2 separate regions of the Homo sapiens genome follow, and region 1 is linked to region 2. Evidence: fine-mapped expression QTL. A gene starts in region 2. The other region holds a variant in brackets. All regions are shown on one strand. Distances are from middle to middle. Region 1 overlaps ADAMTS8 (ADAM metallopeptidase with thrombospondin type 1 motif 8). Region 2 holds the start of ZBTB44-DT (ZBTB44 divergent transcript).

What was found. PIP is the estimated chance that this variant, and not a neighbour inherited with it, causes the effect.
Region 1: its variant is fine-mapped to the expression of ZBTB44-DT in testis (GTEx, PIP above 0.99).

What each region holds. Positions count from the first base shown.
Region 1 is chr11:130,401,117-130,406,490 of GRCh38, reverse strand. ADAMTS8 (ADAM metallopeptidase with thrombospondin type 1 motif 8) reads left to right here. Exons shown (of 9, transcript NM_007037.6): 9 at 363-1,568. The coding sequence ends at 933. ZBTB44-DT (ZBTB44 divergent transcript) reads right to left here. Exons shown (of 7, transcript NR_148980.1): 7 at 2,834-3,190. Among named protein-coding and RNA genes, the nearest start is that of ADAMTS8, 25 kb to the left of the region's middle. The variant T/A (reference allele first, on the strand shown) is at 3,156.
Region 2 is chr11:130,312,107-130,317,480 of GRCh38, reverse strand. It overlaps ZBTB44-DT (ZBTB44 divergent transcript), which reads right to left and starts at 2,488. Exons shown (of 7, transcript NR_148980.1): 1 at 2,366-2,488. ZBTB44 (zinc finger and BTB domain containing 44) reads left to right here and starts at 2,564. Exons shown (of 8, transcript NM_001301098.2): 1 at 2,564-3,106. RefSeq lists silencers at 1,471-1,530, 2,441-3,270 and enhancers at 1,831-1,930, 2,101-2,200, 3,361-3,410.

The DNA.
Region 1 (5,374 bases), 89 kb before region 2:
AGAGGTATTTGAGATCACATTTGACAGGTGCCAGGTTTGGCTACACCAGTGCAGCTTTCCACATCCTTCTGGGTTCTCCTCGTCTCTATGCTGTTCTCAACACCCACATACCTCAACTCCTCAACCACACTTTTGAAATAGAGTTGCCAGATGAAGCAAACACCCTTGAAAATCCCAATGTACAGACATTTCTGTCTGCCTAAACAGCTAATTTATTGAGAACTTTGAGGCAACTTGCTTAATTACTTGCTTTGTTTTTTTCGTGTCTGCCACCTGGGGTGCCCACTTCAGTCTCCAAGGCATCATCGTGACCTGGGCTGGGCAGCCACTGGTCTAAGGGTGTCCTTCTGTTTCTATCACAGTTATGGCTACAATGACATTGTCACCATCCCAGCTGGTGCCACTAATATTGACGTGAAGCAGCGGAGCCACCCGGGTGTGCAGAACGATGGGAACTACCTGGCGCTGAAGACGGCTGATGGGCAGTACCTGCTCAACGGCAACCTGGCCATCTCTGCCATAGAGCAGGACATCTTGGTGAAGGGGACCATCCTGAAGTACAGCGGCTCCATCGCCACCCTGGAGCGCCTGCAGAGCTTCCGGCCCTTGCCAGAGCCTCTGACAGTGCAGCTCCTGACAGTCCCTGGCGAGGTCTTCCCCCCAAAAGTCAAATACACCTTCTTTGTTCCTAATGACGTGGACTTTAGCATGCAGAGCAGCAAAGAGAGAGCAACCACCAACATCATCCAGCCGCTGCTCCACGCACAGTGGGTGCTGGGGGACTGGTCTGAGTGCTCTAGCACCTGCGGGGCCGGCTGGCAGAGGCGAACTGTAGAGTGCAGGGACCCCTCCGGCCAGGCCTCTGCCACCTGCAACAAGGCTCTGAAACCCGAGGATGCCAAGCCCTGCGAAAGCCAGCTGTGCCCCCTGTGATTCAGGGGGGCAGGGGCCAGTCTTGTGCTCCTGGACATGCGGTACTGAGGTGCAGACAAGGGTCTCCACTGTGGTGACTGGGTCCCTTGGCCATATCAAGGCAGCACGGCCCACCCAGGCCTCCCATTGCCGCAACCCCTCCAGTACTGCACAAATTCCTAAGGGGGAAGAGGAGAGGGTATGGGGCGGCAGACCCTATCATCAACTGTCCAGTGGACTGGACCTTGCTCGGGTTCAAGTAGAGGGCATAGGTTAAAAGGTAAAAGTGCACTTATTGACTCAGACAGGACACTCAGCGTCAGTCTGTTTGCAAAGGACTAGCAAACTTAAATGAAAAAAAAAATTCTATCTGGTTTCCCCGATAAATAATCTACCTCACAGGGGAAAAAATTAGTACAAGAGAGGCGTGGGGCAGGGAGTCAATGGTGAATGTCAAAGCAGGCTCCAAAGCTGGACCCCAAGCTGTCTTCAAGAATGACCACGACTGTCTTCAGTGTTAAAATCCATCACCTAAAGGGCCGCAGCGTCGCAGGGTTTGGAGAGCCACATGTTCTCAGGCTGCCACCTGCAGGGGTGGATCCATTTCAAGTATTTATGCAAATGTGTCTCTGAACTAAAGTGTGATCTTATGCCAATGCAGTGGTCTGGTCTGATTCATTGTTTCTTTGGAAAGGGCAGCAACCTAGAACCCAGGGATGGAGGCTGAAACTAGGTCAGCAGCTGGATCCCTGCCTGCTCTGGGTCCTCACAGGCCTGCAGAATCCAGCTCATTCGGGCAACTTTCATTTGCAGGATCTAGACCAGTGGTTCCCAAGGTTTCATTAGGATCACGTAGAGGGCTGTGAAAATGGATTGTGAGGCTGGGCACAGTGGCTCACACCTGTCATTCCAGCACTTTGGGAGGCTGAGGCAGGAGGATTGCCTGAGCCCAGGAGTTCAAGACCAGCCATGACAATATGGCGAGACCCTGTTTCTATAAAAAATTAAAAAACGAAATCAGTCGGTCATGGTGGTACAGGCCTGTAGTCCCAGCTACTCAGGAGGCTGAGGTGGGAGGGTCACTTGAGCCCAGGAGGTTGAGGCTGCAGTGAGCCATTTTCATGCCACTGCACTCCAGCCTGGATGACACAGTGAGACCCTGTCTCAAAAAAAAAAAAAAAGAAAGAAAGAAAGAAAAGAAAACACAGATTGTGGGGCCCCATCCCCAGAGTTTCTGATCTAATGGTTGGGGTGGCCTGAGAATCTGCATTTCTAACAAGTTCCCAGTGACTGACATGGAGGCTGCTGGTTTGGGAGCCACACTGTGAACACCTGTGCTACAGGAAACGTCCAGCTGGGAGATCACAATTGTTATGCGATGCCTTTGGGCTCATCATTCTTGAGAAAGAATATCCCCTTCCTCTCTGTGAGCTACCCCATCATCCTCTTACATGCTGCCTGCCTCCTTTTAGTTTAGCTGGGGGCACCAGATCCTCAGCCCCTACTCCGCTCCATAGCTCCTCATCTCTCCTGTGGCTCAGAGGAACTCTGGCTCAGTCTTCCACCTGGTCTGGTGCAGAGGGAACTTACTTAGTCCCTGATCACAAATGGGTGACAAGAAACAGACATCAAGAAATGACATTCTAGCAAAAGAAGGAAAATACCCAAATGTGCATCTTGGTTTTTTTCACCACCTGTGCCCCCTTTGTCCTCCCATTCAGATATCTGGCACCATGGGCAGAGAGGATGCTGTAGGGGCACTAGGCAAGGCCATGAGATTCCAGCCCCACTGTTCCCCTTAGCTGCTCTCTACACGATGACAGCTGACTCAGAGTTGGTCACTCCTTCTTGTCTGCCTACTCTTTTCAGCGAGTGGGAGGCTGGGCTTACCTAAGCATAAACAGGCACACACACAGGCATGTTGTTGATGACTAGCAAAACCAGATTGTTTCCCTGCTGTGCACCAGTTTTGTGGAGGCTGATGTATGCTTCCGCAACTCTTCATCGCCTTCCATTTCTCGCTCTCCCCCAAATAAGGCCAAGCGTGTCCCCCTTAACGGCCTAAGCCAGGCCAGCTGTGCCATCCCTGCTGCCTGCATCATTACCAGGCACAGCTTTTGCCCTGGAGTTCAGCTGGCAGCAGAGCTGCTGATGTGCAAAGCAGAATGGAATCCAGCTTGGCTCTCCCGGTTGTGTGGGCTCGGCGAGGCTCTCAGAACGCATACTTGTTTGTGTCTGGAAAT[T/A]CAACAGCTGCAGCCCAGGGACTCAGAAACCAGATCTGCAGAGGAAGACCACACCATTATCTGCCCCAGCCAACCACGACCACTCTGTGCACCCAGAGAAGGAGAGAAGACTGTATTTCCTCTGCTGAAAGATTGTGTTTTCCAGCTAGTGCTCCTAATGGAAACTGGTACTCTCTTCTAATGGGAGGCCCTGACTTGGCAGGTAATTTGGTCATTAATCTGAATCCTCCAGGCACCTGCCAGAAATACTTCGAAGGTGGTACAGTAGCATAAAGTTAATTTCCAACCTTTCATTTTTAAGATAAGTGAATCTTTATCTGGGGTTTATCCTCTGCCCTTTATTCCTCTATCACAGATCAGAGGGTTTTGTGAATTTACAAAAGTATGCAATATTACTATTCCCAGTCCACTCTAGCAGACCACCCCTCTCCCAGGAACATATTCCAGGGGTGGTAGGACCCATCTCACTAGATCCGCATCTGTTCTCTGATGACATCCACCTGCTTCTACATCCTTTGTGCTTGAACTTTTTAACCAAGTCACCCTCTTAGTGAGGACTCTTCCTCTTTTCTGGTGTCCAAACATGTCACCCTTCCTGTTTTCCTCTGGAGTGTGCTCCGGAGTTGTTTCAAACCACCCCTCCCTCCCCACACCCCCCAAAAAACAAAACTACAAATGACAAGAACAATTGGAAAGTTCTTAAGGGATACTGGCTTTTGCTTTGTCTTGATATTTTCCACTTGTGGTCCAGGGCAGATAAAGAGGGAGGCCTTGTCAGCCCTGCGCTATGGCGTCTGCAGCGTTGAGCAGCTGCGTGTACTGGGCTTTCCTGCGTGGTGCAGACTACCCTGCCCAGGTGCCCCTGGTCCCAGGAGGGGAGGCTCGTGAACCCCGCAGCAATCTCGACTCCGTGTGCTCTGCCCCAGATCACCAGGTCCCTCCAGGAACCTGCAGCATTTCCTTTGCTGTTTGGGAATTCAAAATGGTTTCTCGAAAAATGTGAACAGGAAGGCAGAATTTATCAAAGAGGACTAGATGTAGCACGACCCTTGGATTCCCAGATTTCTGCTGCCACAGACTCATCACTTCTTTTTGCCCCTATGATGAGTTGAAGCTACATTTCGGAACACATGGCCCCAAAAAACAGGAGACGGGGTGAACATCATGAGGACGGTGATGACGTCTTCTATAAGCCTAGGTTACTGGCCCTGAGACGTGTCCTCTGCCCTCCTCCACTCCCACTCTGCCCTGTGTGATGTGGGAGGGAATTCCTCAGGTGAAGACAGGCTCGTCCCTGCCCAGAATTTCCCATCCGTAGCTGCACCGCGGTTAGACACTCAGCTTCCCCAAGCCCCGCATGTGCACCGTCAGTAAGTACCGGGACAGGAAGCAGAGGAAGGGAAGGATGCAGCCGCATTCAGTCCCAGAGAACAGCAGGCCCGGGTTACTCCTCTTTGGTGGCCGGGGCTGAAGGACAGTCTGTCTTATGGGGAAAACTCTCCTCCCCACGTTTTTCTGGGGGCCTCCGCTGAGCTCGCATTGGGAGAGCTGCATGTGGAATGTGGGAAAGAAGAAGTCACCCATCTAAGCCAGCGTCTTCATTGGCTCAATGTTGGTGATCACTAATGCGACAAATACTGTGGTTGTATTGACCGTACATATGACAACATTCTAAACAACACAGGAGAACACAACGAGCAACAGTAAAAACTGGAGGGTCCCGCGAACGGAGTGGGTGGGCTGTGACTCCCACACTTTCCCTGCCCCTGGCCAGCCCCTCCTAAGCACCTGTGTGCTTTCCAGGTCAACACTGCAGAATGACCTGGCCAGACGTAACCAATAGGTGTGGTCCTAAACAGCTGGTACCACACTTCCCTGGCTCGTTCTTCTTCAGGTGGGGAGTTTTTCTGACCTTCCACTTTGGAAAGAGCAGGACTTGCTTAAAACTGAGTGCCGGCCAGCCCACACCCCCTGAAATAGATCAAGGGACTCATCACAGCCACTGCTCAAGTACTGGGAAGAGACATGACACCAGTGCACAAGTGCATTCTGAACCGTAATGACAAGCAGAGAGCAAGAAAGCCACCTGTCTCTTTAGAACATACTTTCCCTCAGGCCTGGGGCTCAGTAGAAAGAGACAGGAAGGTTCCGGCTGGCCTTCCAGCCCCCAGAGCTGCCCAGCCCAGCCCTGGCAGATGCGAATCGCCCCAGGAAAGGAG
Region 2 (5,374 bases):
AACGAATTCAGTTAAGTTGAAGGATACAAAAATCAATTGATTTTCTTTTCTTTTCTTTTTTTTTGGAGATGGAGTCTTGCTCTGTCGCCAGGCTGGAGTGGCACGATCTCGACTCACTGTAACCTCCACCCCCTGGGTTCAAGTGATTCCCCACCTCAGCCTCCCAAGTAGCTGGGACTACGGGCGCGTGCCACCATTCCCAGCTAACTTTTTTGTATTTTTAGTAGAGATGGGGTTTCACTATGTTGGCCAGGCTGGTCTTGAACTCCTGACCTCGTGATCTGCCTGCCTTGGACTCCCAAAGTGTTGGGATTACAGGCGTGAGCCACCACACCCAGCACAGTTGATTTTCTATATGCTAACAGCCATCAATCTGAAAAAGAAATCAAGAAAACAATCTCATTCACAATAGCTACAAAAAAGCAAAATAAAATACCTAGCAATAAATGTAAGCAAGGAAGTGAAAAATCTCTACCCGGAAAAGTGTACACATTGATGAAAGAAAATGAAGAGAACAAAAAAAAAAAAAAAAAAAAAAGGAAAGATATCTCACGCTCATGAATTGAAAGAATTAATATTGTTAAAATATCCACACTACCCAAAGCCACCTACAGGTACAGTACAATCCCTACCAAAATATCAATGACACTCATCACAGAACTAGAAAAAAAAATCCTAAAATTTGTATGGAACCACAAAAGACCCTGAAAAGCTAGGGCAATTCTGAGCAAAAATAACAAAGCTAGAGGCATTCCTCTACCTGACTTCAAGTTGTACTACAAAGGAAAGCAAATTTTTGTGTCAGTGTAGTAGTTGAGGAGCTGCCACCACAGCCCCTGGAGAAGCACTTAGAAAAGACTTGCCTCATGGTCTTTTATTGACTATCCTGTTAAAGGCACTAGGAGAGGTAGATAGGATTTGACTACTTCATTTCCACCCTGATTCTTGTCCAGTTGCTTACCACCTACATACATTCTCACACATTCCTCACCAGGGCCCCAGCTCATGCCCTTTCCTGAGCCCTGCTCTGTGGCCGCCAGTCCTCTCCCAGGTAAGCATTCCGCCTTCTTTCCCTTCCCCTCTTCAAAACTTAGTGCAAAAGTTTCTGGGCCTAGTTCGCATCTTTCTGATTTTTCTCATCTCTGAAATGGGAATAATAAGAATGATAGTGGGAATAATAATAGAAACCTGTGATAAAACCTGTGAATTACAGTTGCCGTAAGGATTAGATAACATTATACATGCTTGAAAACTTGTTGGAAACTGCGAAGGACTATAAAAACAGAAGTTGTTTTTATTGCCTTTATTCCTAAAGAAGATTGCAAGTGTCAGGGTGTTCAGGTGCTTGGCTGCTTGTCTCTCAGAGTGAATTAATGTGAGATGTTGCCAAGTGTTTCAAAAGGAAAATCCACTCTACTTCAGCGGGACGTCCACCCACCTTGCACAAAACCCTCTGGAAAGAAGTCTTTCGGTTTGCAAACTGGAGGCGTGGGAAAACAGAAAGCGCCCAAGGAGCACCTGCCCGCACCCCGCCCGCCCCCAGGCACCTGGGGCGCTGCCGCCTGCAGTCCCGGGAACCCCTATGACCTCCGGGGGCGGTGTGGAGAGCGCTCGCCCGCCTGGCCAGGGGAAGCCAAGACTTAGGGCCCTAGGAGTTAACTAGGTTGATTGATTTTGCAGTTGACCAAGAACTTCAAAACCCCCCGGGCGGTACCGGTTACTTCGGGGAGGCCCGCACACTTCCTCCGGGAAGGCCAGGAAGTAAGTGATGGTGCAGTAAAAATGACAGATTCACGGTTGTGGAAGAAGTAGGGTATATTTTTGGAGCAGCTCTAGCTGTCCCTGTGTTGGAAGAACGAGAGGGACCTGGGAGTCCGTTTCTCCACTCATCTCAAGAACCGCACGTCCTGCCAGGTCACCGAGGCAAGTGCTAGAACGGAAGAGAGCAAGCACTGCGAGGAGGCCCGAGGAGCCACGCAATCCAGACACCCGCCGCATGTCGCAGTCCGCCCAGGACGGGGGCGCGGGCTCACCTGTCTGCGGGGCGGCCCTTGGCAGGCCTGTTTCCATGGGTGAACAATGGGCACCTTACCAACTAACCTCCCTCGCCGAAGAGGGGCTGAAGTGTTTCTATTTCGACCTCCCTACAAAAACTACCCGAGAAAATAGGAGTTATGTTTTTAGTTCGAAGAAAAAAATAATGCTATAAATGTGACTCCTGCGGAGAAATGCTTCTCAGGTGTGAGAGGGGAACTGGGTAAGAGGACGGCTTAGAGGAAGGACAAATGGGACAGGGCTTATGGGGCATGTGAATGTAAATCGGCACATGTGCGCACATATGCAAAAATACAGTGTCAAGACTCACGGCCTTTCTGGGTCACGCAGGCTCCACCGTCTAAGGAGACGGAGTCACCAACAGTACAAGTCCCGACGGCCAAGAGGGCCCATTTTCTGCGCTTGCGCAATCATCACGTTTCCTTCCCCGCCCCGAGCCCCGCCCCCGAGCGCGCTCCGCCCCGCCCCCTTCTCCTCCCCTTCCCCAGCCAGGCCGCCGGCGCAGAGCATTGTGGGACACAAACAAAGTGCCCCCAAACAGGCTGGAGTGAGCGGAGCGGCAACGGCGGCGGCGCCGGCCGCACGCGCGCGGCGGCGGCTCCCTCCCAACCTCCCCCTCCCCTCCCCTCAGTCCCCTTCCCCTTCCCCACCCCGCCCCGCTGGGAACACGCGAGCCGTCGCCGCGCTCCCCAAACAACCGCCTGCCCTCGGCCAACCGTCCCCAACGGTCGCCAGCGCGCGGCTCCCGGGCCCCCTCGCTCCTCCCCTCTGGCCCCTCCGAGCGCTGGGGGTGCTTCCCTCCCCGCCTCCTCGCACTCCCACTCGCGGGCACGCCGGTGGCTGTGCCGCCATGCCCCACCACAGGCTGCTCACGGGCCTAGGCGCGGCGGCCCGAGATAGGGGCCCCTGAGCCTCCCGGGGGAGGAGAGAGGCAGCGAGCCGCGCTCCGCCCCCTCCCCCCGGGCCGCCGCCGCCGCCGCCTCGCCGCCCCAGCCTGGCGGGAGAAGGAGGAGGAGCAGCAGGCCTCCGGGCCCGGCGCCGCCGCCCGCAGGTAACGGGGAGGGGAGGGCGGGCTCCGGTCGCGCGGGGGACGGCCCCTGCACGCTGCCCGTGGCTGACACCGCGTGGCCCCCACCTGGCGCCGAAGGGAGCGGAGAGCCGGGTCTGTCAGCCTAGTCCGCGCCGGGAGACACCCCACGGGATCCCCTCGGTGGCATTTAATCCTTCTGGGAGGAGACCGGCCTTGGGCCCCGCGGTCCCGGAGCAGTTACCCCGACCTTCCAGGGAGCTGCCCGTCCTTTGCACGCCCATTTGCCCAACACCCTAACCCGGAGCGGCCGGAGTGTTGCCACCTCTCACCTGGTCGAACCCGGGAGGCTCAGACCTGTTTTTTTTCCTCCTTTCCCCTTCTGCTTTTTCTCTGGTACAGAAAGAAAAAGATGGCACTTCTTTAAAAAAATATATATATATATATATACACACACACAAACACACACACACATACACACACACACACACCTCTTTTCCTTTCCTTCCTGAGGATCACTCTGCATCTAGTCGTTTTATTGCTGGCCTAATCAGAAAAAGGGGTTACCTCGAGAAATGACAGGTACGTTAGAACTGATTAAAAGGAAATTGCGTCCATGTGAGTTCTATGAATCCAAGCAGAATTTACAATAAAACCCCGTAATTGTGTGCTTTTTTTTGGAACTTACAAAAATGAAGACAAAAACTTAATTTCTTTTTCAGCGTGTAAGTAGATAATCTCTTGAAGTCAGGAAGAAATTCTCCATAACTTCCACTTATTTTCTTAATGCTTTATTTGGAGATCGGCTGATACCGGAAGCAAGCTGCACGATTTTGATTTCCTTTTCTCTAGGTGTTCAGTTGGAATTCTTGGGTTTAAAAAATACTGTATAAATCTTCATTTCCCCCATTACTTCACTTGGACTGTCAGTGGATTAATAATAATTTTACCTAATGTAGTTTCCCCTTATCATAGAATGTGAATATAATGAACGTAGTCCTTTAGTTTTGTATTTTAGGATTATTAGTAATGTACTGATTAATTATGAAAACCAGATTATTCATTTTGTGCAGTACTGCTTGGCATTTTTGCATTTGTAATTATTTAATTCTCAGAACAACCTAATGATGCAGATATTATTACTTGAATTTTATAGAAGTGACAAACTTAGTGATACGAAGAATTACAACTTGCCTTAGGGCACACAACTAGTAAGATAGTTTAGATTTCAACCCAAATATAATTCCAGTATAGATGTACTTTCGTGTACTTTCTACCGTACTTCTCAATAGAAGTACAATTTTATTAACTTTGTTATGAAAAATTTTAGTCGTATAGAGGTTCGTTCTATACAATTGTGATCGGTTATTCATGCAATGAATAAAAATGCTAATCAATGCAATGAATAACCAACTCAGTGATTAGCATTTTTGCCATATTGTTTCCTGTCTTTCTCTGTATGTGTGTAATTATTTGAAAGTAAGCTGCAAACACTGTAATCCTCAAATATTTCGGCATGTGTTTCCTAAAAATAGGGACATTCTCCTACTAACCCCAGTATCATTATTAATGCCTATCAAAATTAACAACTCCATCTTCAAAATTCCTCAGTTGTTCCAAAGTGTCTTTGAGGGTTCTGCCCCCAGTTGTAGTCAGTCAAGATTCATGCATTGATTGCATTTGGTGATTAAGTCTTTAGTCATTTTGTAAAATGAAGAGTATCCATCCCCTCTTCTTTTTGCAGGGGAAATTAAATAGGATGAATATTCCCTCCCTTCTTTTTTTCTGACACGTAATTGACCAAACCAGTTGTCTTGTAAAATATACCCACATTCTGGATTTGTGCCCTCCTAATGTCATTTCGTTTATTCCTCTTTCTCCCTGAATTTCCTATTAACTGGAAGTTAGGTGTAAAGGAAGGCTTAATTAGCTTAAAGTAAAACTTCCTTTGGCAAGAATATTTAATAGGTGATGCTGTGTACCTCCTGTTGCATAATATAGGAGGCACACAATGTCAGATTCCCACACTATTAATGATGCTAAATGTAACCATTTGATTAAAGTGCTGACTACTGATCTGTTGTAAAGGTGTGGTTTGCCAGTTTGTGATTAATATGTAATCTTGGGGTAAAACTTGGACACTAAGCAAATACCCAGTTTCTGACAATCTTTTGCTTAGTGGTTTTTAGCACCCATGATGACTTTTGCTTAAATCAGTTATTGGAGGTTCTCTGTAAGGAAGAGATTTCCTTCATTAAGTGCAGGTAAACTATTGTTCTTCCCCAAAATGCA